Linked DNA regions of Homo sapiens. The protein of the gene in region 2 purifies or fractionates together with the protein of the main gene of each other region. This does not show direct contact. Each region holds a gene or a part of one and is shown on either strand. Other genes may lie near its edges.

Region 1 (3,804 bases), on a different chromosome or scaffold from region 2:
GTTTCCCGGTCCAAGTTTTTGGTTGTGACCAATCTATAATAATTATCTATTGATTTTTCTAATTTAAAAGGTAGGTTTTCTGGAATGGTGCAGGTCACCTCACCATTCTTTCCAGAATCTCTGTCTTGTAGGTAGAAAAGAGCAATGACTGTCCCAAGAGGTGTGTCTTCAGGGATTGAGCTACTTAAAGACGTCATAGTCACTTCTGGAGCATTATCATTTACATCTAAAACTGTGATCAGTACTTTTGCCTTTGTCAGACTACCAGGACCATCTTGAGCCTGAACCTCCATTTCATAGAAGGCAGTTTCTTCATAATCTAATCCTTCTAAAGTTGATATTTCTCCTGTAAGCGAGTTCAGATGAAACATCTTTGGAAGTTTAGGAGTTATTTTCCGAAAAGAATATGTCACTTCCCCATTGACTCCCTCGTCCAGGTCGATAGCATGTACCGTGAGCAGTCTTGTACCCACTGGCACATTCTCGGGGACAGTTACTTGGTACTGAGGCAGAGAGAAGACAGGCGTGTGGTCATTCACATCCACCACTGTCACCTGGATGTGGGCGGTGCTGGATCGGGGCGGGTCGCCGCCATCAGAGGCTGTGAGGACCAGGTGGTGAACCCGCTCTTCCTCCCGGTCCAGCACCCGCTCCAGCACCAGTTCCGGGTACTTAGTTTCATCGTCTCCACTTTGCACAGCCAGGGAGAAGTGGCGATTGGGGCTGAGCTGGTAACTCTGGAGGGAGTTCGTGCCCACATCTGGATCCCCAGCCTCGCTTAACGGAAACCGAACCCCAGGAGCTGTATTCTCCATTATTTTTACATTTATTTCTTCCGTCAAGAATCTTGGAACGTTGTCATTAATATCTATTATTTCCACGTCTATAGGGTAAAGATTCATTTTATCTTCCATCAGGATGTTAAAGTTTACCAGACACCGCGCACTCTGAGCGCAGATCTCTTCCCGGTCTATCCTGCCCGCAGTGACCAAGCTGCCGCTGCGCTGGTTCAGGGCGAAAAGCTGCGTCCTACCTCTGGAGATGATGCGGACTCCGCGCTCCGCCAGCTCCCGGGGCTCCAGCCCCAGGTCCTTGGCGATGTCTCCCACAAAGGACCCTTTGTCCGTCTCCTCCGACACGGAGTAGAGAATACGTCCTGCCCAGGCTTCCCAGGGGGTCCCCAGGAGGATGGAGAGCAGGAAGAATCCTCTGTAGTCCCCGCCCCTCGGCTGAGCCGCCATAGTCGTCCTGCTTCTCTTGCTTAGGCGCCGATCTCGGGAAGTGCTTCAGAATGCGGGTGTATCCGGGTGGACCCCTCTGTCTTAGGAAGGGGAGCTCAGAATCCAGCAGGATAGAGGCTTGAGTTTAGTGCAGCCTGGAAGAGGGCTTATCGCAATCTGTCGTTTCTCTGTGCTGTAAAACTCGGTGGTTTCTGTGGGATCTCTCGCACCATTTTTCCCTGGTTGGTGAACAGCGGCGCTGTGAGTCCTTACTAAGTTACTGCACCACATTGATGCACACAATACACTGATTTCATAGAAAATTGTTTCATCTTTCAAAATTTCCCTGTTAGATTTCTTTGCTCTAGATATCCCTGATAATTAAAAATCCATTTTAAGACACTGAATTAATGCAACAGTGTTCATGGACCGGTGTTTGATAATCTTAGATAATTTTTAAAAAACTGCTTTGCCTTGCAACTTTCAAGTGACTCTTTTGGGCACTGACTCACACGTTATTGCACATGGGAAAATCAGTTATTGAAGGCAAAAAGGTAAATTTTATTTAAATACATATGAAAGATTTTACTTAGAAAATATTTACATCAGTGTATATAAATTTTAATTAATTCAGTATTAATTGAACACATATGTTCTAGACACCATGATGCAAGATTCAGAAAGTCAAAATTGTTGTAAAATATATAGACCTATTTTAATAAATTTTTGATTGTATAGAACCTTAGAGACGGTCTAACACCTTCATTTTAACCGTTTAAAAAATGAGAGGGGGGGCCAGGTGCTGTTGCTCACGCCTGTAATCCCACACTTTGTGAGGCCGAGGCGGGCGGATCACCTGAGGTCGGGAGCTTGAGACCAGCCTGACCAACATGGAGAAACCCCGTCTCTACTAAAAATACAAAATTATCCGGGCGTGGTGGCGCGCGCCTGTAATCCCAGCTACTCAGGAGGCTGAGGCAGGAAAATCGCTTGAACCCGGGAGGTGGAGGTTGTGGTGAGCCGAGATCACACCATTGCACTCCAGCCTGGACAACAAGAGCAAAACTCTGCCAAAAAAAAAAAAAAAAAAAAAAGAAGAAGAAAGAAAGAAAGAAAGAAAGAGGGAATTGCCTTGCCTTGTTCCTGATTATTGATTATATAGTAGTAGAACAATGTCGGAATCCAAATATTCTCACTCCCAGTCTTGTGAGAAAAAAAGAAAGAAATCGTTGTTTGTCTTGGCTGCAGCAATCAGCTATAGAAGCAACCCATTTTCTACAGAAGGCAGAAATCTGCAGAGATCCTACTGGGCTGTGAATTCATAAGAAACTGGATAATGGATTGGCTGATTCTTTTCATTATGCAATTCAATTCAAGTCTTCATCCTAGTATGCAATTCAAATCTTCATCCTACTCTATTCTAGTGTAATTGAGAAAACAGGGATCTCTAGACAGCATTTGAGCAAAATGCAGGACTGTCCTGACAGGATCCTTAGAGGTACTCGTCTCTCCACTGATGTTGATAGAGTAAAACTAAATTATTGATGGATCCGAGGCTACCCTCTGCTAGCAGAAAGAAAAGAAAGCTCCTTTCACATAGTTGCAGAATAAAAGAGAATGACCTGCTCTGGAATAAAGACCTGGCAAGAAACAGTCTTGGTTTGTAAATTCTTCTAGGTCCTGGAGAGTAGTTGGTGGAACCAGGAGGAGAATCCAGAACTAACACTAAGAAAGCTTAACTTCGTTTTGTGGGAGGCTCCTAAGTAACCTATTTCTGCTTTCTGGTGGCATTGCTCCAGAATACAGGGAACACTTTGAAGGACATTCTGTTTTGATCTATCAAAATAATCCATAGTTATCTTTGCATTCACAAAGTAGATAAATTTTGTTTAAAGGAACTAATAGAGGTATTATAGATGAATTCTGTAAACTGGAGTTAAATTCTATTTGTTTAATAGTACTTTTGAACTTCTTGTTGAGGCAAGCAAAGTGTATGATTATTAAACAATGTAAGCACTTGTAGATATTTTCAAACAAACTTTCATGTTTGGAGGTTATAGCTCTCAATGTCTTGATCCATTTTTACCTGATGCCTCAAAATTCATAGTTTCATCTCACATTTGTTTCTTATTCTACTGTTTTAAAAAAGTCTCAATTAATTTATAGTGTCTTGGTACCTTCTTTGGAGAAAAGGAAATAAGAGCTAGTTAAATTAAATTATAGACTACTCCGAACACAAAGCATACATACCCTATGGAGTAAATGGCTTCATTGTCTCTAGCATTCACATTTTCTAAGTTATCGAACATCATAAAATTAAATATTAAAGATCTTTACTAGACCGCCAAGATATGTTTAATAAAATCTAACATAAGCTCATTGTATCAAATTGAAATCATTTCATAGTTTAAAGAGTGTATATTATTGTTGACTGAGATATTGGGAAGAATCCTGACCATTTGTTTGGTTGCATTAAAAAGAATTCTATGTAAAGTCTATTTGGCTTCCTGGGCATCGAATTGATTATCTTCTCTCTTTTCTTTTTTGGGACTTTTTTTTCTAAAAAACAAACAACAAAACAGTT
Region 2 (4,532 bases):
AGTAATGAAAATGAATGCCACATTTGTGAACAGACCGTCTGTGGGCTTATTTACCGCATTTCCAACAACATCGTCTGCTTTATCATACATTTCAAAGCAGGGATAATTTAAGTATCCAGAACTTCATGCATAAAAATACTTGGTAAGAAGGTCTCTCTCTGCACACTATTTGGGTGATGTTACATCCGAATTACAGTTTGCTGCCCAGGAAATGATTCACTTCACTCAAAAATGACCGGGGTTCTGAATCATTCACCTGTTATGCAAAACGCCTTTCAGGTCAACCAATTTGCACCTCGTGGACTTCACCACCATCATTTCACAGAGAGCACAAAGATGAGGCAAGCCTTGCCTCTCCCATCTACATGTTTCCCCAAGGAAAAGCATGGCAGCAATTCACTCCCACCCCTCCACACCCCGCCTTACCTTGAAGTAGCTTTTCCCCTTCTAGAATATTTTGGGAGATTAATGCCGTGTAATCATCTTCAGAGAACCCAGCCTTGCAGGTCTCTCTAGTTGTAAGATCCTCATTATGGGCCTGAGAACACAAAGGGGAGAGTGTAAAACAATAAGTTCACAGAAATTTAATCCAACCAACATTCATCCAGGGCCTGCTGTGTAAAAGGTCTCTGGCTAAGAGAGAAAGGCTGGCAGGCCACCGTCTCCACCCAGACGCGATACCCCGTCTGCTCCTCTGCTCTCTGGGGACTTTAGGGAGCACTCTCCAGGCTACAGACCAGGAGCATCCTTCCCCAGCCCCACACACAGCAGGCAGGGAGTGAAGGACGGACTGTTGGGGAAGCCAGGCCGGCCAGGGCCTTATTGGCAGAGGAGACGCCTGAGAAATGACCAAAAGGCAGAGACAGAAGACTTCAGCCGCTGCTCCCGAAGCCACTAAGGGCAGGGAGGCCAAAGTGTGGGCGGCTCTGCTCAGACCATTCGCGCTTTAGGCCCACCGCTCTGCGCTCTTGGTAAGGCGGAGGAGGCAGCTTCTTGTCTCCTCTCCAGGTCACCGGGAGGGAGGAGAAAGAGGAGAGAAAGGAAGAAGATTCTCTAGGACTAGGTCCGGAGCCGGTCGAAGAAGGCAGCTCTGCGGGAGGCTGCCGGTGGCTGGGGTGAGGAGGCAGTGGGGGCGCTTCCACCTTCTAGTCTTCAGCCCGCATTTTCACCCTCGGAGCCCCCATCTCCAGCCCAGGCAGGGAGACGGCTCCCCTAACTGACCGGAAAGGGGGTCTCCTCCTGTCCTCCGGAGCTCGCTCGCCTTTCCTGCTCAGTGGGGAAGTCTAGAGCCCATGGCACAGGGCCAGGGAAGGATGGGGTGGACGACAGGGCCCTCCGACCAAGCTTCTGGGAGGGGGCGTGACAGGCAGGAGGAGGTGGTGGAGGGAGAGGCAGTGTGTGCAAGCGGGAAGCCAGCCCCGCTGAAGGAGCAGGAGCACAGCGGTGCTTGGCTCCCCGGCGAGCGCAGGAAGCCTCGGGTGCAGCCCGCACCGGGCAGTGGCGCCTCCCGCCCGCCGCCTCCTCCAGCTCCGCGCGCTGCCGTCGCCCGCCCATGCTTCGACTCCGGAGGCCGCCCCCAGCCCGGAGCTCCAGGCTTCCCGACGCCGGCACCGCGGAGGGCGCCCCTCTACCCCCAGCACCGAGGGAGGAGAGCGGGACGCAGGGTCATTCCTTACGAAAAGCTCTAAACCGCGGCTTTCTTCATCGGCCACGAAGCTCCAAATCGCACCCGCAGCCCGGTGGGAGGCTCAACTCGCCCAGGAAAGTTTCCGCCCGCCCGAAGCGTGTGCCCAGCGCGTCCCCCAGCGCCCCGCGGCCTCGGAGCGGGCCTCCCGCCGCTGGCACTTGTTTATTTCCGAGGTTACAACAGCGCTGCCCGGGAGAAGGCAGCGAGGCCGATCGGCCACGAGAGGGGGTTCCTGCAACTCCCGCCGCCCCTCCGCCTCCGCCCAGGGGCGCCCCCGGAGCCGCCGCGCTCTCTGCCCCCGCGGGCCGCGCACCTCGCCAGGCGCAGAGCAAAGCTGGCAATCCGGCCCGCGGGGCTCTGCAGAGGCAGCGGGAGACCCGCTCGCCCTCCCGGGGCGCCCTCCCGCGCCGCGCCCGCCCGGCGTCCGGCTTCCCGGCCCAAGCCCGGCCCAGCTCCCAGCCCCCGGGGCCCCGCCGGACACGCAGGCTCCAGCCCCGCCGAGGGCTCGGGGGTGAGAGTGCCCCGCAGTCCTACCCCGCCGCCCACCCGCAGCGCGGGTCCTGCCGGCACCCACAGAACTGAGCGGCGCCGCTAGACGGACCCCCAGGCCTTGGGCAGGAGAGGTCGGGCAGGCGCCCCGCACTCGCGGATCCCTGGCCCGCAGCCGCCGGGCGCCCCACGCCTTCAGCCACGGCCGGGGCTGGGCTCGGCAACTCCCGCGGCGCGCGGCTCCCGGGCGATGGAGGGCGCGCCGGCTCCGCCAGTGGAAGCCTGCCCCATGCAGGCAAGCCGAGCTCCGGGTAGCGGCTACGGGCTTTGGGCGTTCGAGGGAGGCTCGGCGGGTCCGGTGCAGGCGGAGCTCCCCGGGTCCTCCACCGAGCCCCACTCCCACCCTGCTCCGCCGCTCCCCGCTGCCCAGGCGGCTTCCCGCTCCTGCCGACCGCAGGCAGCTTCGCCGAGCGCGGGCGCCGGGCTGGATGCAGCGGGGAGCGCGGCGGGGGAGCCCGGGAGAGCCCCGCCGGGTGTGTGAGCGCCCCGCGGGATCCGGGGACGACCTCCCGCTGCCCGGGGCTTCCGAACGGCGGGGGCGGGAGGCGGCAACTTACCCGGAGCGCGCCGGAGAGCGAGAGCAGCAGAAGGAGCACGCCGGCGCCCGCGGTCATCTTCCCCGCCGCCCGCCCGGTGCCCGGCACCGGGAGCCCGCTCCCTGCCGCCGCCGCCGCCGCCGCCGCCGAGACCACCGCCGCCGCTCCGATCGCCGCCGCCGCCGCCGCTCCCCCGCGCCTGCCCGGAGCCTCCAGCCCCGCTGCGCCCGCCGCGCTCGCCGCCCCGGCTCCGGGAGCCAGGCCAAGTCCGGCCGGCGGCGCGTTCCCTCGGGCCGGTGCGTCCGCCGGCCTCGCAGCCGCCCGCGCCTCTGTTCCGCGCGCTCGGAGCTGCAGGTGAAGCCGCGGCCGCCCCGCCGAGGCCCCGCCCCGCCGCCCGGCCCCTGCGCTCGCTCTGCCGACGCGGGCCTTAAAGGCGCAGAGCCCGCGCCCGCGCCCCCCGCGCCGCACCAGCCCAGCCTCTGCCCTCCTGGACGTCTGGAGCCGCCCGGTTGCGGCCGAAGAGGCCAAGGACGCTCGTTTTCCAGGGGAAAAAGGCGCGGGTGTGGAGACTGAAGACAGCGCTGGGGTTTCCGCCCCCACACCCGGGGCACCCTTTCTGGATGGGGCGGTCCCGCCGCGGTCTTAGTCCGACTTCCCGCCCGGGCCCGCGGTGGGAGTGTGCACTTCCATTCTGTCCTTTTATTTTTCAGGTGTCTCCTTGCTAACTCCCCTGACCCGGGCTTGAACCCAGGTCGGGCAGCTCAGGGGTGAGAGTTTCCACCTGGAGCAGATGAGCAGAGGGCCACGCTGAGATTTCAGCCTGTGGGGCTTTGCAGACCCTCCCGCTCCTAGGAAAACTCAAAGCCCTGGCCTGGGCTAGGGATGTACCCTAGGATTGGGGACGGTAGTAATTCCTGTGTGTGCATCAAAACACCCTGTTAGGCCTCAGAAGCCAAGAAAGAAATTAGAAGCTCCAAGAAAGAAAGAAGTGCCCAGACAGGAGCTGTCAGGAGTGTCTGCGCCGACAGGCTGGGCCAGCTCCAGCTCCCTTTGCCCTGCATGGGTGATGGCTGAACTGGGGGGCACTTCTTTAAGGGTTATCAGGTAAAATATATGTACAGGTCGGACAGTGAGTAAATGTTTCTGCACTTTTCCTTTTGGCTTGGAGATTTAAAGAAACGCGGTTTTGTTTGTTCAGATACATCGAATTTTCTTTGTCTGGGGTTTCAGGGACTCTGTGTCCAGAATACATTAGTTCTGGTTTAAGAAATAGGTTGCAAAGGAGAGGGTGGAAGATTGAGTGACACTGTTGAGCTCCAAGATCAGAGTCCACTTGGGCAAGCCAGTAGAGAAAGCTACAGAGCAGCCGCTTCCCTCTCTCCCTCCCAGAACCCCCACCCTTGGGGGCAGGGTGGTCTCCCGGTTAGAGCTCTGCCTTACGCTTAAGGAAACCAGATTTTAGATAACCCCAGAGGACCAGAGTAAGCACTACATCCGAGAGCACAAGGCGAGATTCGGTTTTGCAACTTAACTATGGAACTAGTCAGGAGACACAAAATCTGCCCCAGCCTGGACTCCTATCAGTTATGGCCTTGTCCCACTCCCCACCTAGCCGAAGAAGGAGAGGTTACCAGTTGACATGGCTGGAGGTTTAGACTCACTCGAAGGTCCTGCGTAGCCAGTGAGGTTTCATGAACAGATCCATCCAAAATCCTCATGGACAGAGAATTCCATTCCTCGGCCATGTGCCCGTCCTTTGG

The links.
Region 1: the proteins of CDH4 (region 2) and PCDHGA6 purify together in Homo sapiens (co-immunoprecipitation; one large-scale study listed by IntAct). This does not show direct contact.

What each region holds. Positions count from the first base shown.
Region 1 is NC_000005.10:141,380,337-141,384,140, reverse strand, and holds part of PCDHGA6 (protocadherin gamma-A6 isoform 1 precursor), read right to left. Parts: intron 1,400-3,804; exon of another isoform or gene 1,242-1,399; coding exon of another isoform or gene 1-1,241. Other genes in the region: PCDHGA7 (protocadherin gamma-A7 isoform 1 precursor), read right to left, coding at 1-1,241. UniProt on the Homo sapiens protein: Potential calcium-dependent cell-adhesion protein. May be involved in the establishment and maintenance of specific neuronal connections in the brain.
Region 2 is NC_000020.11:61,250,832-61,255,363, reverse strand, and holds the start of CDH4 (cadherin-4 isoform 1 preproprotein), read right to left. Parts: upstream 3,104-4,532; 5' UTR 2,851-3,103; coding exon 2,794-2,850; intron 1,767-2,793; exon of another isoform or gene 1,677-1,766; intron 1,285-1,676; exon of another isoform or gene 1,222-1,284; intron 539-1,221; coding exon 427-538; intron 1-426. UniProt on the Homo sapiens protein: Cadherins are calcium-dependent cell adhesion proteins. They preferentially interact with themselves in a homophilic manner in connecting cells; cadherins may thus contribute to the sorting of heterogeneous cell types.